Regions from separate parts of the Homo sapiens genome. Here all the other regions are linked to region 2. The links come from fine-mapping of genetic effects on gene expression. A gene starts in region 2. Each other region holds a variant in brackets. All regions are shown on one strand. Distances are from middle to middle.

Evidence for each region. PIP is the estimated chance that this variant, and not a neighbour inherited with it, causes the effect.
Region 1: its variant is fine-mapped to the expression of SYNM in liver (GTEx, PIP 0.99).
Region 3: its variant is fine-mapped to the expression of SYNM in whole blood (INTERVAL, PIP 0.98).
Region 4: its variant is fine-mapped to the expression of SYNM in tibial nerve (GTEx, PIP above 0.99).
Region 5: its variant is fine-mapped to the expression of SYNM in visceral fat (GTEx, PIP 0.97).
Region 6: its variant is fine-mapped to the expression of SYNM in skeletal muscle (GTEx, PIP 0.98).

Annotation. Positions count from the first base shown.
Region 1 is chr15:99,123,443-99,128,477 of GRCh38, forward strand. SYNM (synemin) reads left to right here. Exons shown (of 4, transcript NM_145728.3): 3 at 3,280-3,350. Among named protein-coding and RNA genes, the nearest start is that of TTC23-AS1, 13 kb to the right of the region's middle. The variant C/T (reference allele first, on the strand shown) is at 2,696.
Region 2 is chr15:99,102,210-99,107,244 of GRCh38, forward strand. SYNM (synemin) reads left to right here and starts at 2,871. Exons shown (of 4, transcript NM_145728.3): 1 at 2,871-3,800. The coding sequence starts at 2,991. It overlaps SYNM-AS1 (SYNM antisense RNA 1), which reads right to left and starts at 3,668. Exons shown (of 3, transcript NR_187219.1): 1 at 3,479-3,668. RefSeq lists silencers at 2,621-3,530, 3,811-3,980.
Region 3 is chr15:99,134,059-99,139,093 of GRCh38, forward strand. SYNM (synemin) reads left to right here. Exons shown (of 4, transcript NM_145728.3): 4 at 1-1,535. It overlaps TTC23 (tetratricopeptide repeat domain 23), which reads right to left. Exons shown (of 14, transcript NM_001288615.3): 14 at 2,265-4,069. The coding sequence ends at 3,952. Among named protein-coding and RNA genes, the nearest start is that of TTC23-AS1, 2.7 kb to the right of the region's middle. RefSeq lists an enhancer at 2,706-3,207. The variant C/A (reference allele first, on the strand shown) is at 2,817.
Region 4 is chr15:99,212,675-99,217,709 of GRCh38, forward strand. The region is part of intron 8 of TTC23 (tetratricopeptide repeat domain 23); the gene reads right to left. Among named protein-coding and RNA genes, the nearest start is that of TTC23, 34 kb to the right of the region's middle. RefSeq lists an enhancer at 1,596-2,096. The variant C/T (reference allele first, on the strand shown) is at 2,811.
Region 5 is chr15:99,179,031-99,184,065 of GRCh38, forward strand. All of the region lies in intron 9 of TTC23 (tetratricopeptide repeat domain 23), which reads right to left. Among named protein-coding and RNA genes, the nearest start is that of TTC23-AS1, 42 kb to the left of the region's middle. The variant C/A (reference allele first, on the strand shown) is at 2,698.
Region 6 is chr15:99,189,758-99,194,792 of GRCh38, forward strand. All of the region lies in intron 9 of TTC23 (tetratricopeptide repeat domain 23), which reads right to left. Among named protein-coding and RNA genes, the nearest start is that of TTC23-AS1, 53 kb to the left of the region's middle. The variant A/G (reference allele first, on the strand shown) is at 2,565.

The sequences.
Region 1 (5,035 bases), 21 kb after region 2:
CTCACCTTTCCCGTTCAGGTGGCGTTGCTGGTCATGGGAATGGAACTCCCCTCTGCCCCCTCCCTTCTGTTCCCTGGTCTTCCCGGTGACTGACCAGCCACGGGCCCGCATCTGGGGTGACCCAGGCAGTGCGTCCACTCTGTGTGGAGCTTGGCTTCCTCTGTCGCAGTGAGGAGTCGAGGGAGGCGGCTCTGCGGCTCCTTCTCCAGCTCCGGAGCCTCCCTTTCTTCTCTGCACTTCTCCACCTGCTGTTTGCTAGGAAGCACCCCGTGAATCACCCACAGGCCCCGGCCCCGGCCCCAGCAGGCTCCCGCACAGACACGGCTTCTGGGAACATCCTGACAGTGCCTCATTTATGGGGCTGCACAGAGCAGTGGCCTTGTGCCCACGGTGCTGAGTCACGGCGGATTGTTCAGCAATTCCATTAGGATAATCTATCCCAGACAGAGAGCCTTGCCTTGGAGCCTGCTCAGGACGCCGGGTGGCCCATTAGGGCCTGGCGCCTGGCCAGAGGCCACATGACAGCCGGCTTCTGCACTGTGGGTTTGTCCTGGGCTCCTTAATGAGGCCAGGGACTTGAGTTTTCTTGCACTTTTGCTTATTTTCCTGCATAAGGGGCCACCAACCTGTGGAGCTGTGTGAAATGCCCACAATAGCCCATGACTCAGGGGATTGGCATTTCTCACAGTCCCCGAGGCTTGGGGGCAGATTTCCTCCACCGCTCTCAAAATAACCAGGTTTGATTGCAGCCTCAGAGAACATGCTACCCATTTCTTAAAGTGGTACGAACCTATTCCTTAAAAATGTCCCTTGCAGAGCTTTAGAGGAAGTCGTGGTTTCTGGCTTCTCCTCAGAGTCTTGTTGATGCTTTCGCCGTGTAGTCCTGGGGCTGTGCGGAAGGAGGGTGGCTGCCATTGGGCTGGATGTGCTACCCAAAGCATGAACTCAATGGCCAGTGCCCAGCCGGGTGCTCACAGATAGTAAAGGTGACATGTGTCGCTGCCTGCTAGGATCCGGCCATTGAGAAGGGACACAGATGAGGGATAGCTCCTTCTCCAGCAGGAGCTTCTTACTTATAGGAGAGCTCTGCAGGGCCATTTTGGATGAAATCACCAAGAGAATTTATTTTCATTAATATGGCCCGGAGGGTCTATCTGTAGGATTTGTGCTTTCTGAAATTTGTGTGCAATACCATGGTCTCTGGCCTCACTGGGAGGCCTAGTGGTATCGCAGGGGAGGGGGCTGAGAGCTCAGGCTGCCTGGGTTTGCATTTTTCTCTTTACTGGTGAGCCGTATGCCCTTGACCAAGACGCTGTCTCTGCACCCCAGTCTTCTCACCTCTAGAGCGAGGATGCAGCCACAGGCCCTGTGTTGGGGGTGGCTTCGACGGTGTAAGTACATGAGTGACCACAATGCCTGGTGCTCAGTGTCAGCCAGGGATGGTAAAGGCCTAGAAAGGGGAAGCTGTGGGGCTGTATCTTGTCCCCTGAACCCAGCCAGAAGCCCCACGCAGGGCTGGTGCCTGTTTCGTGTGGGTCCTGAACTCTATGAAGGTTTGGTGATGCTTTGGAATTCTGGAAGAGGAGCAGATGCATTCCCTTTGGAGGGTGGGGAAGACGTATTTTTCCCTGGACAGCAACATACCTTCCGTTCTAACTTGGGCAGCTCAAGGGAGAGGCCCCGTGGTACCCGAGGTTCACAGCTGAGCCAGGCCGGGAGGATCTGAACTAGAACCTAGTCTTTCTCCCCACGCCCTGCCCTGGCTCCTCAGCTGCAGGACGCCACCCCTTCTGCTGCCGTCATCCTGGGGTGCAGAGCCTTGGGGCCTGGCTTTTACCCCGAATGTTCCTCTGATTATATAGACCTCAGAACTTTCTCAGCAGTGAAAGCTGTTTGCGTTCCTGGAACCTACAATGCTTGGTCATGAGGGCGTGGGATTAATGGGTTGGTGTCCTGTTTCCTGGCCTCTGCCCTGAGCGAAGGGCTGGGGCTCTGGACTCGGGCCTCTGCACATGCCCCGTCCACACACAAGCATCCCGCAGTCACTGCGCCGGGGCAGGCCCGCTGTGTGCGCCTTCGCGAGAGTGCCTCATGCCTCCTTTGCTTTCTTCCAGCTGCTCACAGGGCTCTCGTGTTCATGGGGCTCACCATGTTTCAACAGATGGAAATACAACTCAGTGCAGTTTGTCCAAGCTGCCAAGTCCCTGCTCGGGTGTGGGCACCCTGCTCCGTTTTTGTGCCCAGCTCTCAGCCATAAGATTGGCATTTCTCAGTGGGCTCTTGTTCTGGATGCCTTTTGCCGTGTGCAGTGTATTTCTTGGAACCGGAGTTAGTGACTTCACATGTTGCTCTAGCAACTGAGAAACTGTTGCACCCAGAGCTGCCAGCAGCCCAAGGGGTCTTCGCGAGTGACTGGCTGACAGGCATCCCGGTGCTAAGCCCCTCGCCAGCAGGCTGGGTCTGCTGGGACCACTCTCCTCAGCTCTGGGATCTGAAGCAGTAGACGTGAACAACCTAATGAAACTTCTATAATTTTAGAACTTTGGCGCAGACATAGTCAAAGAAATCACCTTGTTGGGTACTTCTCACCATTTTATTAAAGGAGATAACAGGATGCCAATTTGGATGAAGTGAGGCCCCTGGGGGTGGCATGGGGAGGGGCTACTGACGGGGGGCGCTTTAGCACTACCTTTTC[C/T]GTCTGCCTGCCTTCTACTTCTTTTTGTCGTCTCCAAGGTGACCCCCTGGAATGCAGTTTGAAACCACAGATGCAGTCTGGCTGCCTTATAAGTGTCAGTCCCTGCCGTCTCCTGGTCAGCCCTCTGCAAGCTGCCCCCACCAGCTGTGACTCCAGGAAGAACCCAGTGGGGGGTGTAGCTGCTCTGGGGCCCTCTAGCCTGGGGCCCACATCTCTCCAGTGCCCCCTTGCTCCTGCTCCTCTTCACCCTGGACTGAGAAAGCTTTCTAGAAGGGCTTGGCTCGCCAGTACTGCCGAAGCCCTGGCCTGGTCATTTTGTTCACTGGGCTAGTAGGGGTTGAGCGCCATGCTGGCTGCCAGGGATGTGGCGGTGAGCAGAGCAGGTGGCCTGGCCCAGGTCTGCTGAGGCTGGTGGGTGGGCTTGCCAGCCCTATGGTGCAGCCCTGCCCAAGTCTCCTCTTCAGGTAGAAGTCCTAAAACAGGTGACACTATGGTCATTGGCCGCATACCACGATACGTTTTATTAGAGGCACTTCTTACTCTTTCGTTTCCTAATGAATTATGTTTGTAAATTATTTTTACAGGGCCTTATTGGAAGGAGAAAGTAATCCAGAGATAGTGATCTGGGCTGAGCACGTTGAAAACATGCCGTCAGGTAAGTAAAAGCTAATGACTTGACTTAGCTTTAGGCATCTGAACTGTTTATTCTGTGGCTAGATAGTAAAGCACCATCATCGGGAAGAACGGGTTAGATATGGTGTTTAGATAACAGGAGTTCATCTCTCATTTAAGTACCAAATAGATTTTAGTTTAGTGTGACATAATTTCAATTATGTGAATGAGAATGTTTGGGAAGGTGCTTGATAAACTTGGTCCCTCTCTCGACAGGATGCAGGAGCGGAAGGGGCTAATGGCACTGGGCAGTGTGAGGGCGAGCAGGAGTGCACCTGAACTTGTGTTTCACACCCCTGGAAGGGACACTCCTTCCATTTCCAGACCAAGGGGTTATGGTTGTTACACCTGTAGAGGGAGGTATGGCCTTGGATGGCAGGCAGGCAGCACTCTGGAACCTGCTACCCTAACAGGAAGAGAGATGGGAATAGTTACATTGTTTACACCACCCTAGGTTGTTGTGAGCAGCTCAGGAAAATGTGTCCTGGTGCCTTGAAGACTACCTTATTGAGGCCAAGAGCCTCAGGACAGGGCCCATCCTTCCTATGGCTGCAGAACTGACATAAGATCATTAATGTTCATTAGAAAGATCCTAAGAAACTGAGGGATAACTTGTTTTTTAACCTTTTAAAGCCCTATAGAATCTTGAAGAGCTCTGGCTAAGCAAGTGTCGATTAAATTACGTATAGAATGTTGAGTTCACACCTTAGGCAGCAGCATGGTTTTAGTCTTCATTGTTTCTTTTAGGCAACTCATGGATTTGACATGTCACTGGGTTGAGAAGAATATTTGGGTTCTAGTCATCTATAACTGGAAGGGATCTGGTCTTAGACAACATGCAGCAAATTTTCTTTCTAATTTTGAGAGTAAGTTTGAAAAAAGCAAAGGTGTTCATGGAAGGGTAGGCATTGGTCAACCTGCCTGGCATCAGTTAACGTGTGACATCTATAAAACAAGAATTAACTCCCCAGATTTCAAGGTTTACTTAGTTACCTACATTTTTAACCTGTGGATACCTAAGTTTGGACATCCATCATGTAACCTAGAGAGAGGGGAGAAGGAAGAAAAGGGCCCAGGAGCTCCGAGGAAGACCAACAGTCTAAGCCAGGGCCTTGCTCAAATTTTCCCAGTTGTGATTTTGGGGCCGAGGGAGAGCACACAGAGGGGCTAACAGCTGTTGCTGTTAACTTGCTTCATTCATTCATTCATTCATTCATTCATTCATTATTTTTCAAGCTTCTTGAAGGAAATAGAGACTTAATATTTGTAAACTAAATTTATTCTGGCAATTACATATTATGCCAAAAGCTTTAGAATAAAAATTACTAGTTGGGAATTTTTATTAGACGTTGAGCTTCTAGATAGTTCTGTTCTGTTGAGTAAATATACAGATAAGTTCCTAAGTAGTGAACTTATCAATACTTGTTAGTGTGCTTGTGTTTCTTTTATAATATTGCATAAAATAATGTTGGCCGCTTGCCCGCTAGCCGGTGGACCTAAACCCAGTCTGTAATCTTCCATGTTTCTTGTTGAATCTTAACTGTAAATGAGATGGTCCCTGCACTATTGCCTGGGGGTTCATCTTCTGGGACTTCTCAGTTGGATCAGTAGGATCAGTTGACCTGAAAAGAGGAGTCTTGTAGAAAATGTCCTGGCCTGGTCTCTTTC
Region 2 (5,035 bases):
ACAGTTGGCACTCACAAACCTGTGGGAGCCAACCGCAGTGCACCACTGCCAGGCTCCTGTGACTTCTGGCTTCCACAGCGGGAAGTATTGGCAAGAGAAGGGAGGCTTGGATGAAGGAAGAACTGGGTTTTCCTCCTCTTGCTCCCTCCTGGGATCCATTCTGCTCCTCTTTTCCAGCGCTCTGGGCTTCTCCAGGCTCAGCCAACACCCTAAGGCGCTAACGGCTTCTTAGCTTCTTGCTCTTGCTGGTCCCTGGTGCTTCCTCATCCCATCCATCCCCATCCCATCAATCATTCCCTTCCCTCTGAGTTTGCCTCTGCTTCCTGGCCAGACCCTGCCTGCTCAAGTCTGCTCTTGTGGTCACAACTCTAATACTTCTAGTCACTTCACCCCTCCGAGCTTCAGTGTTGTGAGGATTCAGTATGAAGCAGCAGGATATTATCCTGAAAGAGTAGCTGGGGGTACTTCCCCCCTCCCACCTCCCGGCCCTGCTAGTTCCTGATCCCCTATAACTCTTTCCCTACCGGGGCAGCTGCATGCTGGAGCAGTCAATTCCTCAGGGACAGGATTTACAGCAGAAATGGGGGAAAGGGTTTTGAGTTTCAAAGTCCAAGACCCTGAAGGGCACTGGGCAAAGAAAGACTAATGAGTCACTGCAAAGTGTCCTGCTGGGACTCACTGGTCCCTGAGAAGGCTCTCCCACCCTGCAGGGCTGCCCCCTGCCCAGCCAGGGGATGTGGGACAGCAGAACCCGTTAGCGTGGGGAGTCAAAGAGCTGAGAACAAACAGCTGCAGCGGAGTCCAGGCAACTGTGAGAGCCGCCCCCCCGCACCCCAATGTCCCAGAGGGGCCCAGGACCGGCAGGGTCTCCACATAGGTTTGGGCGATGACACCACAGCAGCTCTGGTGTTTGACAAGCAAAGGCCAGGTGTCAGTGTGCACCTGGGGGAATGGGAGGATGGACAATGATGGGGTGATGGGGGTCCAAATCCCCCTGTCCCACACCAAGGTGAATGAACCCAAGCACTGAATAAACCCACTTTCCACCCCCACTTAGTTTTAGCAGAAAAGGACAGGGAATTATTCATTGAAAGATATTAATTTCTACCACCTACAGAATGGGATCTCCAACATAGGGTCTCTAGAAAAAGGAAGGGCCACTTTCTGCCTTGCTTGTGATTGGAGGCTCATGGCTGTGACAAGGAGAGCACTAGAAGCTTTGTCAGAGGCCCTGGACCAGCTTGCTGAGTAGTCCACCTTTCCATGCCATCTGTAAAATACACTAACTGCTGGCCCTGCCATGAGGAGCCCTCTGGCCAGTGGATGACCGTCCAGGTCTCGCCCTGGGCACTTGTGTTGCCACAAGTTCAAGGGCACCCCAACCAAGGGTCAGCTGGTTTGTCCCTGTGAGCCTTAATGACACTTATACTGAGAACTGTCATTCATAAATAACTGCCATGAAAACTAATGAAATGCAAGTGTACAAAAAAGAGCTGTGGTTTCCATGGCAATTAAACTGAATACTTTCTTAGGGAAATGCTGGAAAGAAACAGCTGTCACATTAGGGGTGTGTGTGTGAGATTTGTAAAAGTTCGGGGAGATGTTAGATGTCTAGAAAGTTCTGTACTTGGAGCACTTTATGGTCTCTAAGTTTTCACTCCAAATGAAAGAAATTCGTTTTGGAAAATGTAATGTACTATGAGGGTAGCTTGTATAAGAAGGGCAACTGGGACTCCTGTCAACTGACATCAAGAGAAGTATTTTGCACATTAAAATACTGGTAAATGGATATATATTTATGTTTTAAGTTAAAAAGATTATTTAGGCTGGGCACGGTAGCTCACGCCAGTAATCCCAGGACTTTGGGAGGCCGAGGTGGGCGGATCACCTGAGGTCGTGAGTTCGAGACCAGCCTGACCAACATGGAGAAACCCCGTCTCTACCAAAAATACAAAAAAAAAAAAAAAAAAAAAAAAAAAAAATTAGCCAGGCGTGGTGGCGCTGGCCTGTAATCCCGGTTACTCGGGAGGCTGAGGCAGGAGAATCGCTTGAACCCGGGAGGCGGAGGCTGTGGTGAGCCGAGATCGTGCCATTGCACTCCAGCCTGGGCAACAAGAGCGACACTCTGTCTCAAAAAAAAAAAAAAAAAAATTAATGCACATGTATGTGTAATGTATATATATGAGATGAGGCCTCTCTCTGTTGCCCAGGCTGGAGCGCAGTGCCACAATCAGGTTCACTGCAGCCCTGAACTCCTGGGTTCGAGTAATCCTCCCGCCTCAGCCTCCCAAGCAGCGCGTGTGACACCACCACGCCAGGCTCCATATATATATATATATATATATATTTTTTTTTTTTTTTTTTTTTTGGTAGAGACAGGGTCTCTCTATGTTGCTCAGGCTGGTCTCGAACTCCTGGGCTCAAGCGAGCCTCCCACCTCGGCTTCCCAAAATGCTGGGATTATAGGCCTGAGCCACCGCGCCCGGCCCATATCGTTTTTTTAAAAATAGAAAAGCCACCAATCTCCAGGGCCTCGGGTAAGAAGTCGCTCCAAAATCGCCAGCACCACAGCAACTCAATAGGCTTCTATTTCCATCCACCAAGGCCAGGACACTCGTATGCTCCCGGACGCCCTCTCCGGCGTCCCTTCGCTGAGCCCGGCCTGGCTAGCCCGCCACCCCGCCCGCTGTTACCCGACTGCCCGCACCGACCACCTGCGGCCGCCAAGGTGCGGCAGGGGGCGCTGTGCGGCCGCAGAGGCCGCGCCGGGCCGCGCTCTGATTGGCTGGAGGCCGCGGCCCTCGCCCAGGCCGCCCGCCCAGTCTGCCCGCCCCGTCCGCTAAGTGCCTGGGCTCTCCCGCTCGCGTCCCAGTCTGCGGGCCTCCGGGGCAGCGGCGAGGCCGGAGCGTCGCGGCGGAGAGGACGAGACCGGGACAAGACCAGGGCAGGAGGGAGCCGGCCAGCCGCGAGAACCCCGCACGCCCGGCAAGATGCTGTCCTGGCGGCTGCAGACGGGCCCCGAGAAGGCCGAGCTCCAGGAGCTCAACGCCCGGCTCTATGACTACGTGTGTCGGGTGCGGGAGCTGGAGCGCGAAAACCTACTCCTGGAGGAGGAGCTGCGCGGCCGGCGCGGGCGAGAGGGCCTGTGGGCCGAGGGGCAGGCCCGCTGCGCCGAGGAGGCGCGCAGCTTGCGGCAGCAGCTGGACGAGCTGAGCTGGGCCACTGCGCTGGCGGAGGGCGAGCGGGACGCTCTGCGGCGCGAGCTGCGGGAGCTGCAGCGCCTGGATGCGGAGGAGCGCGCCGCCCGCGGCCGCCTGGACGCCGAGCTGGGTGCGCAGCAGCGCGAGCTGCAGGAGGCGCTGGGCGCGCGCGCCGCCCTCGAGGCGCTGCTGGGCCGGCTGCAGGCCGAGCGCCGAGGCCTCGACGCGGCCCACGAACGCGACGTGAGGGAGCTGCGCGCGCGCGCCGCCAGCCTTACCATGCATTTCCGCGCCCGCGCCACCGGCCCCGCCGCGCCGCCGCCACGCCTGCGGGAGGTGCACGACAGCTACGCACTGCTGGTGGCCGAGTCGTGGCGGGAGACGGTGCAGCTGTACGAGGACGAGGTGCGCGAGCTGGAGGAGGCGCTGCGGCGCGGCCAGGAGAGCAGACTCCAGGCGGAGGAAGAGACGCGGCTGTGCGCGCAGGAGGCAGAGGCGCTGCGGCGCGAGGCGCTCGGGTTGGAGCAGCTGCGCGCGCGGCTGGAGGACGCGCTGCTGCGGATGCGCGAGGAGTACGGGATACAGGCCGAGGAGCGGCAGGTCCGTGCGCGGGGATGGCGCGCTGACCCCATACCCGCTGCCGTCGCCCCAGCACCCTGCCCTTGACGGCGTGGGGCAGCGGCCCCTTCACCAGGGGCGCGGCGTCGCGGACCGGTAGGGCCCGCCCAGAGGGTGCCCGAATGGCATGGGGACCCGGACTCGGTCCGCTGGTCCATCGACTCAGCGGGCGAGCGCGGGGCGGCAGGTCCTAGCGGATAGCCCCGTCCTCGTCATGGGGTTAGGTGGCAGCTGCTTTAACTCTTGACAAGCGTGACTGGGCGCATCCTGATAGGCCACCCTGTTAGCTCTAGGTTTTCCTTCCATTTTCCGTGCTCCGTAGACTCAGTAGACCCAGATCTAAGAGTCAACCGAGAAACCTCTCTCACTTGCAGAAGTGACGGCTTATGGTAGCCCCGCTGTCTATAGCGCTCCTCAGGGGAAAACTCAAATTAATTTCCAAAACGGTTTTTATTTTGCCAATATGATTTCCCAGTTGGAAGCCGCAGTTGTGGCTCTCTGGGCGGCTGCCTTGTTTGATCTTGGGAGGGGCAGCAACCCTCATGCAGAACAGAGCTTGATCGAAGATGTTTTGCTCACAGCACACGCTGACGTCAGATCTCTGCGTAGTGTAAAAGTTGTGGGAAAGTGGGGCCCTTTGGCAGGATGTTATTACAAGTGCAGAGTGATATAAACAGTTACTATTTCAGGGAAGCAAACCCTCTGACACCGGCGGGGTGACACCTGTGGCTGATGTAAACTATGCCCAGTCCAGCCCTAGCGTTTGGCCCTCGCCCTGCCCTGCCTCAGCCAGAATTGGAAATATTCCCAAATCACACTATCAGTAGTTCTCAAAAGGACAGATGGAAATAACATCTGCACAATTTCACAAATATTTTAAGAGTACAGTTTGCAGCTGTGAGTTAAAGATTTGAGACTGACTTTTAAAAATTAGAAGTGAGAGGAACATGGGGGTTGTCATATGGAATGACTGCGGTGATGTGACAGGTATCCACAGGTGATGAGTAAATACCTGTTGATTCTCCCTGGGTCCCCAGCACTGCCCTAGACTTTCAGTATGCAAAGAGCTACAGGCTAGATGGGAAATCATAGAATGCAATATGGTACTACATTGGGATTTAATCTTTTGAGTTGTGGGTTTTGTTTGGCTTCCGCCTCATAACTTTTCAAAGTGTTCTCTTGGGGCTTTGCCATAGCTAGAGCAGGGACAGGGACTG
Region 3 (5,035 bases), 32 kb after region 2:
ACCCTCCATTCATGGGATGCAGGTCTTTCTGAGCTCAAGGGTGAAAGATGAATACAATAACAACCATGAACCCACCTCACGGAAGCTTTTTTTGCACTTTGAACAGAAGTCATTGCAGTTGGGGTGTTTTGTCCAGGGAAACAGTTTATTAAATAGAAGGATGTTTTGGGGAAGGAACTGGATATCTCTCCTGCAGCCCAGCACCGAGATACCCAGGACGGGCCTGGGGGGCGAGAAAGGCCCCCATGCTCATGGGCCGCGGAGTGTGGACCTGTAGATAGGCACCACCGAGTTTAAGATACTGGGATGAGCATGCTTCATTGGATTCATTTTATTTTACACGTCAGTATTGTTTTAAAGTTTCTGTCTGTAAAGTGTAGCATCATATATAAAAAGAGTTTCGCTAGCAGCGCATTTTTTTTAGTTCAGGCTAGCTTCTTTCACATAATGCTGTCTCAGCTGTATTTCCAGTAACACAGCATCATCGCACTGACTGTGGCGCACTGGGGAATAACAGTCTGAGCTAGCACCACCCTCAGCCAGGCTACAACGACAGCACTGGAGGGTCTTCCCTCTCAGATTCACCTGGAGGCCCTCAGACCCCCAGGGTGCACGTCTCCCCAGGTCCTGGGAGTGGCTACCGCAGGTAGTTTCTGGAGAGCACGTTTTCTTCATTGATAAGTGGAGGAGAAATGCAGCACAGCTTTCAAGATACTATTTTAAAAACACCATGAATCAGATAGGGAAAGAAAGTTGATTGGAATAGCAAGTTTAAACCTTTGTTGTCCATCTGCCAAATGAACTAGTGATTGTCAGACTGGTATGGAGGTGACTGCTTTGTAAGGTTTTGTCGTTTCTAATACAGACAGAGATGTGCTGATTTTGTTTTAGCTGTAACAGGTAATGGTTTTTGGATAGATGATTGACTGGTGAGAATTTGGTCAAGGTGACAGCCTCCTGTCTGATGACAGGACAGACTGGTGGTGAGGAGTCTAAGTGGGCTCAGTTTGATGTCAGTGTCTGGGCTCATGACTTGTAAATGGAAGCTGATGTGAACAGGTAATTAATATTATGACCCACTTCTATTTACTTTGGGAAATATCTTGGATCTTAATTATCATCTGCAAGTTTCAAGAAGTATTCTGCCAAAAGTATTTACAAGTATGGACTCATGAGCTATTGTTGGTTGCTAAATGTGAATCACGCGGGAGTGAGTGTGCCCTTCACACTGTGACATTGTGACATTGTGACAAGCTCCATGTCCTTTAAAATCAGTCACTCTGCACACAAGAGAAATCAACTTCGTGGTTGGATGGGGCCGGAACACAACCAGTCTTTTTGTATTTATTGTTACTGAGACAAAACAGTACTCACTGAGTGTTTTTCAGTTTCCTACTGGTGGTTTTGATATTGTTTGTTTAAGATGTATATTTAGAATGACATCATCTAAGAAGCTGATTTTGCTAAACTCCTGTTCCCTACAATGGGAAATGTCACAAGAATGTGCAAAAATAAAAATCTGAGGAAAAAACCCACATTGTTCCTAAAGAGAATGAATATTTTCAGTAGATTTTGATGTTTCCTTTAAACTCTAAGTAAAGAATCTGTGTGTTTACATGCATGTTTTTAGGGTAGCAGAGAATTACTGGGCAGAATATATATGAAAAGTTCCAGTTCTCTAATTCCTCACCTGAATCGGAACTCAATATTGGGAGCACAGAGCTAGAAAGCCTGGCAGACAGAGCATAAGCCAATTGGCTTGTAATCAAATATACACTGGACAATTTGTGGTAAAAATGTCATCATCACAGCCTGAATGACTAGTGGCAGTAGGACACCACCAACCATCCCATTTGGGATGGAGAGGTTTCTTGGGATGTGGTACTTTGAGTGCTAAAACCAGGACTGTCCTGGGCATACCAGGACAGTTGGTTACCTTATAAGTGCAAATTGGAGGGTTAACCCTAAGGCATGGCCATTTCTTAGGGGCTTGAAAAAACTGAGGTAGTTTGAGACAAAGGAATAGCTAGATATCTTTACCCGTTTGTAACCTTGTAGCCCTTTACCAAAAATAGAAAAACACAAGTAGCTATAGTCTTCCTCTCGTTGAAGTCAACAGAATTAACAGATGGGAGACATTGGAGGGAACATTCCTAAATTCATTGCTTCCTGGGGTGGGGTGGGGTGGGGGCGCTAAATTTTAAAAATGTGTTTTAGTTTTTGTGATTCCAAGCTACGCTTCAAGAAGTACAGAAAGGAAGAAGTAACATCAGAATTCACATTTATTTCAAAAACTCGGCATGGACTCTCAGTTCAGGCTGCTGTAACAGAAAGCCGTAGCCTGAAAGGCTTAAACAACAAACATTTATTTCTTACAGTTCTGGAAGCTGGGAAGTCTCAAGGTGCCAACAGTTTCATTTCCTGGTGAGGGCTCTCTTCCGGGCCTGCAGACGGCTGTCTTCTCACTGTGTCCTCACATGGTGGAGAGAGAGATCATCTCTCTGGTGTCTCTCCTTATAAAGCACTAATCCCATTCATCAGGGCTCCACCCTCATAACCTAATCACCTCTCCAAGACCCCACCCCCAATACCATCCCTTTGGGGATTAGGGCTTCAACGTGAATTGGGAGCATATGAACATTCACCCCTTAGCTGACTCCACCCATGTCAACTAGATAGGACACACGGTGAGTAGTGACATCTTACACGTTTTTAGCACACTGCTGATGTCCGACAGGCCTGGGTCTGGGACCAGTGTGTACCAGCAAGCATGGTCTGTGGGGTCAGCTGTCACGCTCCTGAGGAAGACAATGGTC[C/A]CTGCTTCTCTCCACCCTGTCGTGGCTCTACTGAGTTTATTTTCCCCATCAATACTGGAGGTGGTGCCCTGCACAAATGGCCCCAGGGTGGTTTTGATGTCCCACTGGGGGCTGGAGGGGAGGGCCCTGTGCTGCAATCTGCTGTCATAGCACCAGCCTGCAGCCTCATGGCCACAGTCTGTGGGACCAGGGGAGGGAGGGGAAGGGACATCACTGCCCACACCTGCACCCCTACCCCTGGGTGTTCCATCCACCTCGATCTGGCACTGGATCTCCTCGTTGACATCGTGGAGGAAGGCACTCAAAGCTTCCTGTTCGACTTTGCCATCCTCACACGACTATGGCCTCCTTCCAGGGGGCTGAAGACTGCTGTGTACACGATAGTGTGCCAACTCAGGAAGCAGCTCCAGGTGGCATCCAGGTTTGTCCTGCCTGCAGTGGAGGCCACAGGAGGGATGCGAAGCAGCAGGGAGTCTGCGGTCTTCCCCCCGCAGCCTCCGGCTAGCCTTTCTTTTCACTCCCTTACACCTGCCTCCTGGGCCCCAGGCCAAGTCAGGTGTGTCGGCCTCCTGCCCCTCCTACTGGGCTCTTTCTCAAACCCCTTTTCAGGCTCCGAAGAACTCTGAGGCAGGCTGCACTTTGAAAACACATGCTGACAGCAGCGTGTTCAGGTTTCCCTTTATTAGCGTTTTCTTCTCATGTTATTCTCAATCCCTATTAGCCTCCTATAAGAAAGGACTTCCTGAAGTTCACTGTCCAGATCTAACTCCACACCTATGCAAGGAGCTGTGTGTACAAGCAGATGCCGGGCTGACTCCTGCACAGGGCGCACTGAACTGTTGAAGAGAAGTTTTTCAGCCACAGTAGTGCTGATGGGTAAAAATTCTTGTTGGCAAGAAAAACCACTTAGGTGATAGAAAACTGCTTTATAGCATATATCACCCTGAAGGGCATCCACTGTCAAAATGTGGCCCACGGGAGGCTTATGGTCTCACTGTTGCATGTTGGGGCCAACAGTTGGCCTTGGAAATCTGTATCCTGACTGTTGAATTCCATTTTCTAGGCGGAGGTGATTTGTACAGCACCCTAAATGACAGTGCCCAGGAATGTCCTAGGCTTTTTCAGGGTGGGGGCCTCAGTCTGCTGTTGTGCCGGGCCGGGCCTTCCCCAGCAGGGTGTCCTGAGGGATGCTGGTGCAGAAGGCCACTTTGGCTTTTGATGCCTGCCTTGGCTTCGAAGCAACCTTGGGGGCCCTGCAGACAAGCAGAGGGTGGGGTGAGTGTGGTGCCCCTCAGCCCCCCACACCGTTCCCATCCAGCCTTTGCTGCCCAGCAGGTGCCCAGACCCATTTATGAGAAGACTTGGTAGGGGCTATAAATGAGAGGAGAATTGTAGCACAGAGCATAAAACATGAGATGTTTTCCTCCCATCTTTTATTTTTTTAATTTTTTTTTTTTCAGACAGAGTCTCACTCTGTCACCCAGGCTGGAGTGCAGTGGCCCCATCTCGGCTCCCTGCAACTTCCGCCTCCCAGGTTCAAGCAACTCTCATGCCTCAGTCTCCCGAGTAGCCAGGATTACAGGCACATGCCACCACGCCCAGCTAATTTTTGTATTTTTAGTAGAGACGAAGTTTTGCCATGTTGGCCAGTCTGGTCTCAAACTCCTGGCCTCAAGTGATCCACCGCCTCGGCCTCCCAAGGTGCTGGGATTATAGGCATGAGTCACCTCGCCTGGCCCCTCCCATCTTTTAAAATCACCTGTGACCATCCTCACTGAGCTGAGGCCCTCAACCCTTAGCTGGCTTGGTGAGCAGGACATGGGTGAGGAGGATGGTCAGGGTTGCACTGGAGGCCTCCCTGGCTCGCCTTCCCTGCCCTCAAAGGGGATGGCGCCCTGCTGGCCAGGTTGTGTCTGCTCCGGGCTGTGGCCCTGTTTCCCTGAGCAGACTCAGGCAGCCCTGGGGCTGCTCTCTGCGGACCAGGCTCTGTGAGGTAGGCCCTCCACGGCAGAGCGCTGGGCCTCTGCTCGGGCTGAGAAAGGACGTAGGGGCCAGCCTTTAAGGTCAGTCAGTGAACCTTCCGGCTCCAGTCCTGACGGGCATCCGAGGGCAGAGGGAAGCCGGAAGCAGGGCTGCAGGAGGCCACAGGGATTCCCGGGGCCCTCCCCCTGCAGCAGGTGCCTTAGCCTGCAGGGGCTGGTCTGCAGGAAGACAACATC
Region 4 (5,035 bases), 110 kb after region 2:
AAGATGATACACTAAAAGATATCCTTTTAAGAGGGACATAGGACTGAGTGCAGTGGTTCATGCCTGTAATTCTAACACTTTGGGAGGCCGAGACAGGAGGATCGCTTGAGCCCAGCCTGGGCAATATAGTAGTAAGACCCTGTCTCTACAAAAAAATAAAATTAGCTGGGTGCAGTGGCACGTGCCTGTAGTCCCAGCTAGTCAAGAGGCTGAGAGGGGAGGACTGCTTGAGCCCAGGAGGTCAAGGCTGCCGTGAGCTGTCACTGTGAAACTGTACTCCAGCCAGAGCAACAGAGTAAGACCCTATCTCAAAAAAAAAAAAAAAAAAAAAAGGGGGGGACATAAATCCAATGAGCGCTGCCTGAGAAATTATCTTGGCCTTCCACTTCCAAGACCTGGCAAAAGAAAAGGCCCTCATGGTTCAAGCTTACCTACAGAAGTGCATAAATCCAAAACACCTTGTTAATTTCTAAAGCAGATAAATTTGGACAAAATACATTTCAATAAGGAAATGAAGCAAAGTAATTGAATGAAAATTATACAGTTTAAACATGCACATTGTGGTGATTATATCAGGGTGAAGAATTAGGATGAAAAGAAGTAGCAAAGTTTGAAACAACTTGGCTAAACACAAAAGTAACTTTGTAGAATAGTCTGGAATATTAACTTAAATTCTTGTTGGCTATTCAGCCTAGATGTGTACAGGGCCCGCCATCTGCTGGCAAGGCTTGGTGTTGCTAATTTGGAAAGCACTCAGAGGAGGTGCCAGAGGATCATTTACTCTTTTTTATAGCAACACTGCTCAATGTTAAATACTGATATATTAGGTCTCAACAGATGCAACAAATATTATATCTTGGAGCTCTGAATTGTGTATTTCCTATCTTATAAGACAGAATACCTAATTTCTGGCAGGAAGGGATTCTGGACTGGTAAAGCCTTCCCAGTCACTAACAACCTTCTTCCTCCTCCAGTTATATAAATGGAATTGTACAGTATGATTCTTTTGCATCTGGCTTCTTTCACTACACATTGTGAGAGCCATTCATGCTGTTAAGCATAGGAGTAGTTTTAATCATTTTATTTATATTAACATCACATTTTTTCTGTTTTACTTTTGGTGAACATTTAGGCTGTTTCCAACTCTTGGCTATTACAAATAATGTAGCTTTGAATATTCTTGGCTATGTCTTTTGGTGAAAACATGCATGCATTTCTATTGGGTGTATAATTTAGTAGTGATACTGCTGGGTCAAAAGGTATGCAAATGTTTAAATTTAGGAGACAATGCCAAATAGTTTTCTAAAGTAGTTACACCAAATATATTTGAAACAATGGTATATGAGAGAGCATATCAGAGAATCACATCCTTCCAAATGTTTGCTATTAGTAGTCTTAAAATTTTTTTAGCCATTCTAGTGGGAATGTAAGAGTATCTTATTTATTTATTTATTTAAAGAGACAGAGTTTTGCTTTGTCATCCAGGCTGGAGTGCAGTGGTGTTGCACAGCTCACTGCAAACTCAAATTCCTGGGCTCAAGAGATCCTCCCGGCCGGGTGCGGTGGCTCACGCCTGTAATCCCAGCACTTTGGGAGGCCGAGGTGGGCACATCACAAGGTCAAGAGATCGAGACCATCCTGGCTAACACGGTGAAACACCGTCTCTACTAAAAAATACAAAAAATTAGCCAGGCGTGGTGGTGGGTGCCTGTAGTCCCCACTACTCGGGAGCTGAGGCAGGAGAATGGCGTGAACCCGGGAAGGTAGAACTTGCAGTGAGCCGAGATCGCGCCATTGCACTCCAGCCTGGGTGACAGAGTGAGACTGCATCTCAAAAAAAAAAAAAAAAAAAGAGATCCTCCCACCTCAGTCTCCTGAGTAGCTAGGACTATAGGTGAGCACCACCACACTTGGATAAATTAAAAAATATTTTTGTAGAGATGGGGGTCTCCCCATCTTGCCTAGGCTGGTCTTGAGCTCCAGGGCTCAAGCTATTCTTCCACCTCAGCCTCTCAAAGCGCTGGGATTACAGGTGTGAGCCACCACACCCAGCCATATCTTATGATTCTAGTTTTCATTTTCTGATAACTGATAAGGTGGAACACCTTTTGATAGGTTTATTTGCTATGCGGGTGTTCTTTTTTTGGGAAAAGTTTCCTGCCCATCTTTCTTTTCTCCTTTTTTTTTTTTTTTTTTTTGAGATGGAGTTTCTCTCTTGTTGCCCAGGCTGGAGTGCAATGGCGCGATCTTGGCTCACAGCAACCTCTGCCTCTCGGGTTCAAGCAATTCTCCTGCCTCAGCCTCCCGAGTAGCTGGGATTACAGGTGCCCACCATCAGGCCCAGCTAATTTTTGTATTTTTAGTAGAGACAGGGTCTCGCCATGTTAGCTAGGCTGGTCTTGAACTTCTGACCTTGGGTGATCCACCCGCCTCGGCCTCCCAAAGTGCTGGGATTACAGGCATGAGCCACCGTGCCTGACCTCCTGCCCATCTTTCTATCCAGTTATGTGTTTGTTTAACTGATATATAAGGGTTCTTTGTAGACTTCAGATATAAGCCCTTTGTCAGTTGTACGTATTACAAATATTGTCTGTAGTATAAGATACATGTGATTTAAATACAGGACAACACAGCACCAAGCAGAGAGGATAAAGAGTGCTGGCACGCTCAAAGGTCCTTGCATTGTTCAGGAAGTGGTTAAATGATTAATTTACAATTAGATTCTAATAAATCAGGGATATAAGTGACAAACTCCACAGTAACTACTAGAATAAAAAGAAGATAACAAGGCCAGGCATGGTGGCTCATGC[C/T]TGTAATCCCAGCATTTTGGGAGGCCAAGGTGGGTGGACTGCTTGAGCCCAGGAGTTCAAGACCAGGCTGGGCAACATAGCGAAATTTCATCTCTACAAAAAATACAAAAAGTTAGCTGGGTGTGGTGGCACACACCTGTAGTCCAAGCTACTCAGGAGGCTGAGATGAGAGGATTGCTTGAGCCCAGGGAGGTTGAAGCTGCTGTGAACCATGACCCCACCACTGTACTCCAGTCTGGGCAACAGAGTGAGATCCTGTATACAAAAAAGAAAAGAAGAAAGAAAATAAAAAACAAAAGAAAAAAATGTATAACTTGCAAATTAATGGGTATAAAATGGAATGATAGAAATATTTGATTAATCTAAAAGAAAGCAAGTAAGGAAAAAGAAAAGAACAAAAAGTTGGCAGGAGAAAAGGAAATTTAAACCCAAATAAATATTTTTTAAAAGGTATTGTAGGAAAATATTTACCAAAAGAGAGCTAGGATATAGTATCAGACAGAATAGATGTAGGGGACAAAAAAGGACAAGGTCAACTAACCAATAAAGTGATAGGTTAAGAAGATATGAGGCTGCTAAACTCTCCTCTCACCCCAACAAAATAGCTTCAGGATATATATAACAATGCAATACAATTACAAATCAGTAACACCAAGATATCTTGAAAACTCTCATACCTGCAAACCAAAACACACATCATTTGAATAATCCTTGGACTAAAGAGTAATTTATAAACTGAGTTATGAAATACTAAGAAGTTATCACAGTGATAATGCTTCATGATAAAATATATGGAGTAGAGTTAAAGTAGGTCTTGGAGGGAAATTTTAGAGAATATTTTTGATATTTAGCTGGAAAAGACTTTCTAACCAGACTCCCAAAGCATAAATCATAAGGTGAAAATGAATGGATTTGAGTGAACCAAATTAATAATTTCTAAGCCACGAAGAACACCATAGACAAAATTAATAAGCGGGCAATAGATGTAAGAAAATATTTATATCATTAATATTTATAATATATAAGAAAACCCTGATTATCAATAGGAAAGGTACAGGAAACTCTAAAAGAAAAATAAGAAGGAATACTAACAGGCTATTCATACAAGGTGAATCCCAAGTGGCTAAGTCGTATATGAAAAGTATTCAAACTCACTAATAGGAGAAATGTAAATAGAACTTTAATAATTAGATAGCACGTTATATGCACCAGGTTGGCAAAGATTAACAAAGTCAAATATTGCCAGTGGTGTGTTAGGAACCTACCCACCCTGCAAGTAGGAATGCAAATGCAGATGGGTGTCGTGGTTGGCTGGTGCTTGGTGAACTTAAAGTCTGTTTGTACTCAGTACCACCCCTGGAATATAAACCTCAGAAAAGCAATACCACCCTTGGGATATAAACCTCAGAAAAAGTGTCACTTAGCCACGTAAGTGAAGCTGTGTAAGGATGGTCATGGCAGCACTGCTATGGCAGCAGAGAGCTGGGGACAAGCTGAATGTCTATTGTTAGGAGGATGGACAAACAAAATACAACAAATGCATTCTATAGAGCATTATACAGGAACCAGAAGCAATGAACTAAAATCCAGGCAACAACCAAAACGTGCTGAGTGGAAAAAATAAGAAGCAGAATGATACATACGCTACAAATTTATACAAATTTTCTTTTTTTCTCTTCTTTTTTTTTTTGAGACAGAGTCTCACTCTGTCACCCAGGCTGGAGTGCAGTGGTGTGGTCTCTACTCACTGCAACCTCTGCCTCCTGGGTTCAAGCGATTTCTCCTGCCTCAGCCTCCTGAGTAGCTGGGATTATAGGCATGCGCCACCACGCCTGGCTAATTTTTGTATTTTTAAGTAGAGATGGGGTTTCACCATGTTTGTCAGGCTGGTCTTGAACTCCTGACCTCATGATCCACCTGCCTCAGCCTCCCAAAGTGCTGGGATTACAGGCATGAGCCACTGTGCCCGGCCAAATTTATACAAATTTTAAACACATAAATATATAAAACAATATTGTTTGTTATTCAGAGATACATACTCAAAAACGTAAGCCATCATTAAAGTATTTATCTATGATGTGTGTGTAGGAGAATGAGAGAAAAGATCGGAGATGAAGGGAAAAATTAATTTAAAAATCCATACCAGAGGATTTGCACAGATGAGTGAGCTCTGCACTTGCAGTTCAAAAACCACCCAAGAAAAACAAAAGAACAAAGGGAATTGT
Region 5 (5,035 bases), 77 kb after region 2:
TGAGGGAAAGGGCACTGAGATGGTAATTAAAGGTCAGCCTCTGGGGCACAGAGCAGGGCTGAGAAGGATGCACAGTGTAGCTGAAGGACCACACGGAAATGTCCAGCCAACGACCTAGCCAACACCTTGGCCTCTCAGGTTTCTGACAAACTTACTTTCCTCCTTACTCTCAGGTGCCCAGTCCCTGGGTCACACTCCAGACCTCATCATCGCCCACTCTGTGTTACCACTGGATCCTCCAACTCACAGACCCATTTTGGCTCTTGGGGGGCCCTAGATCTATTGCCTCCATGCACATCTACTCCACCGCCCCCTGACATTCTCACTAGTCATCCAACCCTCCTGCTGTCCTTCCCTTCTTGTCCAGCTTAATGGGCACCGCCCATTGCCTGTGTTGAAAATGCCCTCCACTGATGCATTAATTGAGATGGTAAAAAATGGGGAACCACCTAAATATCTATCAGCAGGGGAATGAACATATTGTGGTTTATTCTACAAGTTCTTGATTGAACTCCATCTACATATGTTAACATGGTTGTATTTCAAAAACATACCACTGAGTGAACGAAGCAACTTGTAAAAGGATGCAAACACCATGGCACCATTGATTTTCAAGTTTCTTTTCTGGAGCAGAAGAACCCAAACAAAACCTTCTGTGGTTCTCAATATACACAGCAGGAAAGAGCAGAACAGCCGCTCTCACAGAAGCAGGTGGAGGGGCCTGGAAGTCTGACTACCTGCTCCCAGCTAGCTGCCCCAGAAGAACCTCCATGGAACATGAGGGCTCAGGGTGACACAGATTGAGAACCACAGCACATGCTGGGCAGTGAGGCTTCCTTAGGGAGTGAGTGCAAAGGACGTTGACAATGCTAGTGTTTAGACTACACTGTCTTTCCAAACTCAACCATTGTTCACAATTTTCAAACAATGCTTCATTTGCTGAGGGAATATAAATACCCTGTTACATGCATCTGAGAGCATTTAAGGACTAGGAATCACAGTTAACAGAATTACAGGCATCCTGCTTGCCTCTCCTGGATTTCTGCAAGAGATCAAGTAATGGGCCTCGCTGGGGCTCCATAGTTTGACCACACTCACTCCTTCTCCTCAGGATTTATTAATCTCCCCAGGGCTTGCATTTCCCCTCATGTCTTTTGTTCTTTTCAGTATCTTATGGTTACATTTATCAACTGTCATCTTGAAGCTGAGGAGGAATGTTTAATATCTCCAAATCCCTTGGGGTGCTGGCATGTTGGACTGGGTTAAAAACAAAAAAAAACTTCTAATATTCCACATTGAACAAGGTCATTAATTAAAAAAAAAAAAAACAAAACTCATCCACAAGACCAAGGACCTCAACCCCTGCCAAGGCACAGAGCAGCTGTTCCATCCTGGTGCCTTGTATGTATGTCTGGGGGAAACCACAGATTCCTCAGTGCCAATCAAGCTGTCGACAGACACAGCCAGAGCTGGCAGGCTTTTATCTAACTGGGCCTGTCCCCTTGGATTGGTAAAATGTGTAATATTTCCTAAAGAGAAAGCCTGATGACTAGTGAAAAGGATGAGAGACACTTCTATTTCTGCAGGCAGACCCCATCATCTGAACACTCAACTTCAAACCCTGGAAGGAGTCTGAGTGTGGAATCCCAGCTCTTGGGGATGGGGTGGGTCTTGGGGGTTAGGGAAATATATTTTCCCCCCACTTTGTAATAATTTGGGGTTCAGTGACAGAGCAAAATCTCTCCTACAGCAAAGTAGAGATTAAGTACACAAGAAGATCAAGGTACATTTGTGGACTTAGCCTGAATGTATTTACTCTGGAGATGAGAACACTCAGCGAGGAGACAATAGAAGTCTTCAACTTAGTCACAGCCAGGATCTCTTTGTACAGCTGAGGGTGAGCACTGGAGGGACACAGGGAAGGAGGGAACTAACATCGATTAAGCACCTTCTTCTGCCAGGTGTGGTACTAAATGAATTTTACCACTTACCAGTTCACTCAGTCTCAAAATGACCATTGAAAGTGATGTGAACAGCCCAATTTACAGAAGGGGAAATTAAGCCTCCAGGAGATGAGGTTGAAGGTCACATGGTGCGTCAGCAGCAGAACAGAGACTCAGACTAAGGCCTGTCATTCCAAACTGCATACTTTTCCAGTCTAACACTTGGTTATTGAGAGGGTAGAAGTTACAGAAAGATGATTTTCTAATCAATGTAATGAAGAGATATTTAAGGGTCAGAGAAAGAGGCTGTCAAAGAGTAGACTCTGTCCAGAAATGGACTGGGCTGCCTAGAGGGAAGAGTGAGATGCTAACATGTGGATGCCTGAGCAGCTAGCTTCTAAACACTTTAGAGGGATGCCATAAAGGAGAGAAAAGCGGCAGATGGTGGATAGAGAAGATGTTATGGTGTCGTCGACCGAGAGTCTACGACTCTGCTTTGTTTCAAGTTTGTGCCTTAATTCAAAAGAAGTTCAAGTCCACTTGTCATTGGAGGTGTGAGCTTGCTGTTTCTTTTATAACTGACCAGCTGTGAAGCTGCATAGCTTGCCTTTTCACCCTGCCAAAACTGGTCATTTCACCCTTCAAATCTGAGCTAACACCCTTACGTAAGACAGGGTCACGTTGCAGCCCCGGGTTGCCATTTCCTTCCCTCTCCCATCTCTGCCCAGCAGGGAAGGCTTTCATGGCCACACAC[C/A]CCTTGGAGGCCTGGGGCAGCTGGTGAACCTTGGCTAAGAAAAAGACGGAGCTGGGAATCCCTGGGGGATTAGATGAACAGGAAGTCACTGGGAGCAGAGAGCATTGGAAAACTGAGTTCTGAGGGCCCTGGACTAAGCCAGTTTCTTTTAATAGTCAGAGAAAGTCCTCAGTGGCAGCTCTCCAGTTGTCAATTTTAGCTCCTCCAAAGAGCTGGGGAGAAAAAGCACTACTCTGTATAAGCATTAGCAACAAAATAGATACCTCAAGGGCTTATATTTTCTTCGTTTGGTTGCAAGTATGTGTTTTCTTAAAACTTAATTAGATTTTTAAATGATAAGAGTATTACCTGCATAGAATCTTAAAAAATCTTAAGTGGTGGAAAAGAATAAACAATTGAAATTAAAAATACTCCTTCCCCCTTCTACCTGCCTTAACCTCTTTTTCTCCCCATTCCCAGGCTTACAGCTAATCAGTTTCCTGTATTGTTCCAGAAATCTCTCTCTCTCTCTCTCTCTCTCTCACACACACACACACACACACACACACACACACACACACACATAATCATAACCCAGCCACGTGCCGCTCTTAGCTTCATCTCCTATGACCCATACTGGGCTCCAGCCACAATGGCCAGACAGCTAAATTGCATTTCTTTAATTACGAGTGAGGCTGAGGATTATTTTTGTATGGTTATTGGTTATTTATGTTTCCTCTTCTGTAAATTGTATGTTCCTGTCTTGTGCATGTTTCTACTGAGTTGTCTTTTTTATCCAGATTTTTAAAGAACTCTTTCTATATTTTCTCCTCTTTGACATTTATGTTTTGACTTTATGATATATTATCACAGAGTAGTTTTTCATTTTTACTCTGTCAAATTTATCACTTTCTTCCTTTCTCTTTTTTTTCTCTTCTGTCTCCTAATGTATACTCATCTGTATATATGCAGAGAAAAATTGTTCAGCAAGTGTCAACACTGGCTATTTCTGGGCAAGGAGGTCTGAGGTGACTGGTGGCATATATTTGACCTTTCCTATATAGCTTGATTTTTAAAAAACAAAGAACATGTATCATTTTTTAAAAAAAGTAGTTATTACTTAAAAAAAAAAACCAGTAATCTTCCCCTTTGTGGCACTTGGATTGATGTCATTCTTAGAAAATTTTTATAGTGAAACAATATGAAACAAAAAGTGAAATAGTATGAAAATGGACTAATGCAGTAAATTGGTACCAGCAGAATGGGGCATTGCTATAAGATACCAGAGAATGTGGAAGTGACTTTGGAACTGGGTAATGGGCAGAGGTTGGAAAAGTTTGGAGAACTCAGAAGACAGGAAGATGTGGGCAAGTTTGGAACTTCCTAAAGACTTGTGGAATGGCTTTGGCCAAAATGCTGATAGTGATAAGGACAATGAAGTCCACGCTGAGGTGGTCTCAGATGGAGATGAGGAATTTGCTGGGAACTGGAGTAAAGGTCATTCTTGCTATGCTTTAGCAAAGAGACTGGTGGCTTTTTGGCCCTACCCTAGATCTGTGGAACTCTGAACTTGAGAGAGAAGATTTAGGGCATCTGGTGGAAGAAATTTCTTTCTTTTCTTTTTTTTTTTTTTGAGACAGAGTCTCGCTCTGTCACCCAGGCTGGAGTGCAGTGGTGCGATCTCGACTCACTGCAACCTCCGCCTCCTGGGTTCAAGCGATTCTCCTGCCTCAGCCTCCCGAGTAGCTGGGACTACAGGCACGTGCCACCACGCCCAGCTGATTTTTTGTATTTTTTTTTTTTTTTTTTTTTTTTAGTAGATAACGGGTTTCACTGCGTTAGCCAGATGGTCTCAATCTCCTGACCTTGTGATCCACCTGCCTCGGCCTCCCAAAGTGCTGGGATTACAAGCATGAGCCATCGCTCCTGGCCTGGTGGAAGAAATTTCTAAGCAGCCGAGCATTCAAGAAGTGACAGAGCATAAAAGTTTGGAAAATTTGTAGCCTGACAATGCAGTAGAAAAGGAAAACCCATTTTCTGGGGAGAAATTCAAGCTGTCTGCAGAAATTTGCATAAGTAACGAGGAGCTGAATGTTAATCACTAAGACAATGGGGCAAATGTCTCCAGGGCATGCCAGAGACCTTCACAGCAGCCCCCCTTATCACAGGCCCTGAGACCTAGGAGGAAAAATGATTTTGTGGGCCCAGGACCCCCCTGCTGTGTGCAGCCTAGGGACTCGGTGCCTTGCTTTTTGCTCCAGCCATGGCTAGAAGGGGCAAAGGTACAGCTTGGGTGTGGCTTAAGAGGGTACAAGCCCCAAGCCTTGGTAGCTTCCATGAGGTGTTGAGCTTGCAGGTA
Region 6 (5,035 bases), 88 kb after region 2:
GAGAAGAGCCATGACAACTAAATGTAATACATGATCCTGGAGTGGATCTTGCATTGGAGGAAAAAGAATTGCCATAAAGGACCTAATTGGGACAATGGACAAAATGGAATATGACCAATGTTCAAAATTCCCTGAAAAGCCAGGAGTAGTGATTCATGCCTGTAATCCCAGCACTTTGGGAGGCTGAAGTGGGTGGATTGCTTGAGCCCAAGAGTTTGAAACCAGCCTGGGTAACATGGCAAAACCCCGTCTCTACAAAAAAAATATACAAAAATTAGCTGGGTGTGGCAGTGCACGCCTATAGTCCCAGTTACTTAAAGGGCTGAAGCAGGAGGATTGCTTGACCTGGGAGGGCGAGGCTGCAGTGAGCTGTGTTTGCGCCGCTACACTCCAGCCTGGGTGACAAAGCAAGACCTGTCTAAAAAAAGAAAGAAAGAAAGAAAGAAAGAAAATTCCTGGCTTTGATAGCTGTATTGTGGTTACATAAGAAAATATCCTTGTTTTTTTTTTTTGTTTGTTTTTGTTTTTTTTTTTAGATGGAGTCTTGCTCTGTCACCCAGGCTGGAGTGCAGTGATGTGATCTTGGCTCACTGCAACCTCCACCTCCTGGGTTCAAGCGATTCTCCTGCCTCAGCCTCCCAAGTAGCTGGAATTACAGGCGTGCATCACCATGCCTAGCTAATTTCCTTGTTCTTATAAAACATACACTGAAGTATTCAGGGATAAAAAGACATGATATATTGAACATATCTTCAAATGATTAAAAAATATAAACAATTATCTCTGAGTATATGTGGCTGTATATATATGTGTGTATGTTTGTATGTATGTCTATATAGATAGAGAAAACCAATGTGGCAAAATACGTTACAATGGTGGTGAATCAGGGTGCCACAAATGAAAGGCACTACATAACTCACTTCCCATTCCCAAAGTGCTAAGGACTCCTGAGAGTGACAAGACCTACATGCTGCATGCATATTTGAATTCCTTTGCTGATTCCTACTTTTAGACATTTATATGTCTTTTTATTTTTTTTTGAGACAGGGTGAAGTGCAGTGGCGTCCAGGTTGGAGTGCAGTGATGCTATCTTGGCTCACTCTAGCCTCGGCCTCCCAGGCACAAGCAATCCTCCCACCTCAGCCACCCGAGTAGCTGAGACTACAGGTGTGCATCATCACGTGTGGCTAATTTTTGTATTTTTTTTTGTAGAGACAAGGTTTTGCCATGTTGCCCAGGCTGGTCTTGAACTTCTGAGCTCAAGCGATCTGCCTGCCTTGGCCTTCCAAAGTGCTGAGATTACAGGCATGAGCTACCGTGCCTAGTCTACATTTCTTTCTCTAAGCTCAACTGGGACCTGGGGACACTAGTATCTCACAGACTCATTAGATCTACTCTTGATTCATAATCCAAATTGGCATATTTAATGCACTATAAAGCCATAAGTAAATGCGTTTGATTTCAACTTAATACCTTTCAATTTTATTTAACCACAAACACTTTTTTCTAGGAAGACCTATGAACTCTCATGATATGCTAGTACTCTGTGGAACACAGTGTGGGGAATGCTTCTCTAAACCAAACTCAGATCTTTGAATGCATACTGTTGGTGTTGGCTCTTGGAGGCCATCTTTCAGTTCAGTGAATTTTGTCAGGAGAAATGGTCCTTGCTAGATGACTATGTGCATATTATCACTTACATGGTTTGGCTCTGTGTCTTTCCCTGCTGTTCTCGTAATAGTGAATAAGTCTCACAAGACTTGATGGTATCATAAGGAGGAGTTTCCCTGCCCAATCTCTCTTTTTGCCTGCTGCCATCCATGTAAGACATGACTTGCTCCTCCTTGCCTTCTACCATGATTGTGAGGCTTCCCCAGCCACGTGGAACTGTCAGTCCAATTAAAACTCTTTCTTCTGTAAATTGCCCAGTCTCAGGTATGTCTTCATCAGCAGCATGAAAACAGACTAATACAGCAAAACAGCAGAGAGGGGTGCTGCTGAAAAGATACCCAAAAATGTGGAAGTGACTTTGGAACTGGGTAACAGGCAGAGGTTGGAACAGTTTGGAGGGCTCAGAAGACAGGAAAATGTGGGAAAGTTTGGAACTTCCTAGATACTTGTTGAATGGCTTTGACCAAAAGCCTGATAGTGATATGGACAATACAGTCCAGGCTGAGGTGGTCTCAGATGGAGATGAGGAACTTGTTGGGAATTGGAGCAAAGGTGATTCTTGTTACGTTTTAGCAAAGAGACTGGCAGCATTTTGCCCCTGTCCTAGAGATTTGTGGAACTTTGAACTTGAGAGAGATGATTTAGGGTATCTGGTGGAAGAAATTTCTAAGCAGCAAAGCATTCAAGATGTGACTTGGGTGCTATTAAAGGCATTCAGTTTCAAAAGGCAAAGACAGCAAAAATGTTTGGAAAATTTGCAGCCTGACAATGCAATAGAAAAGAAAATCCCATTTTCTGAGGAGAAATTCAAGCCAGCTGCAGGTAATGAGGAGTGAATTTTCATCACCAAGACAATGGGGAAAATGTCTCCAGGGCATGTCAGAGACCTTTGC[A/G]CAGTCCCTCCCATCACAGGCCTGGAGGCTTAGGAGGAAAAAGTGGTTTCACGGGCTGGGCCCAGGGTCCCCATGCTGTGTGCAGCCTAGGAACTTGATGCCCTGTGTCCCAGCTGCTCCAGCCTTGGCTGAAAGGGGCCATCATAGAGCTTGGGCTGTGGCTTCAGAGGGTGCAAGCCTGAAGACTTGGCAGCTTCCTCATGGTGTTGAGCCTGTGAATGCACAGAAATCATGAATTGAAGTTTGGGAACCTCTGCCTAGATTTCACAAGATGTATGGAAATGCCTGGATGCCCAAGCAGAAGTTTACTGTAGGGGTGGGGTCCTCATGAAGAACTTCTGCTAGGGCAGTACAGAAGGGAAATGTGGGGTGGGAGCCACCACACAGGGTCCCTACTGGGACACTGCCTAGTGGAGCTGTGAGAAGAGGGCCACCGTCCTCCAGACCCCAGAATAGTAGATCCATTGACAGTTTGCACCGTGTGCCTGGAAAAGCTGCAGACACTCATCGTCAATGTGTGAAGGCAGCTGGGAGGGAGGCTGTACCCTGCAAAGCCACAGGGGCGGAGCTGCCCAAGACTATGGGAACCTACTTCTTGCATCAGCATGACCTGGATGTGAGACATGGAGTCACAGGAGATCATTTTGGAGCCTTAAGATTTGACTGCCCTGTTGGATTTCAGACTTGCATAGGGTTTGTAGCCCCTTTGTTTTGGCCAATTTCTCCCATTTGGAATGGCTGCACTTACCTAATACCTGTACCCACTTTGTATCTAGAAACCACTTGCTTTTTGACTTTACAGGCTCATAGGCAGACAGGACTTGCCTTGTCTCTGATAAGACTTTGGACCGTGGACTTCTGAGTTAATGCTGAAATGAGGTGAGACTTTGGAGGACTGTTGGGAAGGCATGATTGGTTTTGAAATGTGAAGATATTAGATTTTGGAGAGGCCGGGGGCAGAATGATATGGTTTGGCTCTGTGACCCCACCCAAATCTCATCTTGTAGTTCCCATAATTCCCACATGTTGTGGGAGGGATCTGGTGGGAGATAACTGAATCATGGGGGTAGGTCTTTCCCATGCTGTTCTTGTGATAGTGAGTAAGTCTCATGAGATCTAACAGGATCATAAGGGGGAGTTTCCCTGACCAATCTGTTTGCCTGCTGCCATCCACATATGACATGACTTGCTCCTCCTTGCCTTCTGCCATGATTGTGAGACTTCCCCAGCCATATGGAACTGTCAGTCCAATTAAACCTCTTTCTTTTGTAAGTTGCCCAGTCTTGGGTATGTCTTTATCAGCAGCGTGACAATGGACTAATACAATCACTGATGTCTTTCCATGAACTTAAGAAACTGGTAGCGAGACCTTTTTTTTTGAACTTTTGAAAGTTTTAAAGTTTGTACTGGGCACGGTGGCTCACACCTATAATCCCAGAACTTTGGGAGGCTAAGGCAGTCATATCACTTGAGGTCAAGAGTTCAAGACCAGCCTGGCTAACATAGTGAAACCCCATCTCTACTCAAAGATACAAAAATTAGTTGGATGTGGTTGTGGGTGCCTGTAATCCCAGCTACTCGGGAGGCTGATGCAGGAGAATTACTTGAACCTGGGAGGTGGAGGTTGCAGTGAGCTGAGATTGTGCCACTGCACTCCAGCCTGGGTGGCAAGAGCAAGACTCTATCTCAAAAAAAAAAAAAAGTTTTAATGTTTGAAACTTTTACTAAAGTTTTGAACTTTAGGAACTCATAGCTGAGACGTTGAGGATAGATCTGGATTTAGTCATGAAAAATTTAGAGAACAACTTTTAGAAATTGGATAGGAAGACTCAATGTTGTCAAGATGTGAATTCTTCCCAACTTGATATCCAGATTCAATGTAATCCTAATAAAAATCTCAGGAAGTTATTTTGTGGATATTGACAAACTGATTCTAAAGTTTGTATGGAGAGGCAAAAGATCCAGAATAGCCAATGAAATATGGAAGGAAAAGAACAAAATTGGAGGACTGATACTACCCAACTTGAAGACTTACAATAAAGCTACAGTAATTAAGACAGTGTGGCAGTGGCAAAAGAAGAGACAAAGAGATCATGGAACAGAATAGAGAGCCCAGAAATAGGCCCACATAAATACAGTCCACTGATCTTTGGCAAAGGAGCAAAGGCAATACAATGAAGAAAAGACAGTTTTTTCAACAAACCGTGCTGGAAAAATTGGACATCACGTGCAAAAAAAAAAAAAAAAAAAAAAAGATTTCAGACACAGACCTTATACCCTTCACAAAAATTGACTAAAAATGTGTTATAGACCTAAATGTAAAATAAAAACTAGCTGAGCGCAGTGGCTCACACCTATAATCCCAGCACTTTGGGAGGCACAGGTAGGCAGATCACCTGAGGTCGGGAGGTCAAGACCAGCCTGACCAACATGGAGAAACCCCGTCTCTACTAAAAATACAAAATGAGCCG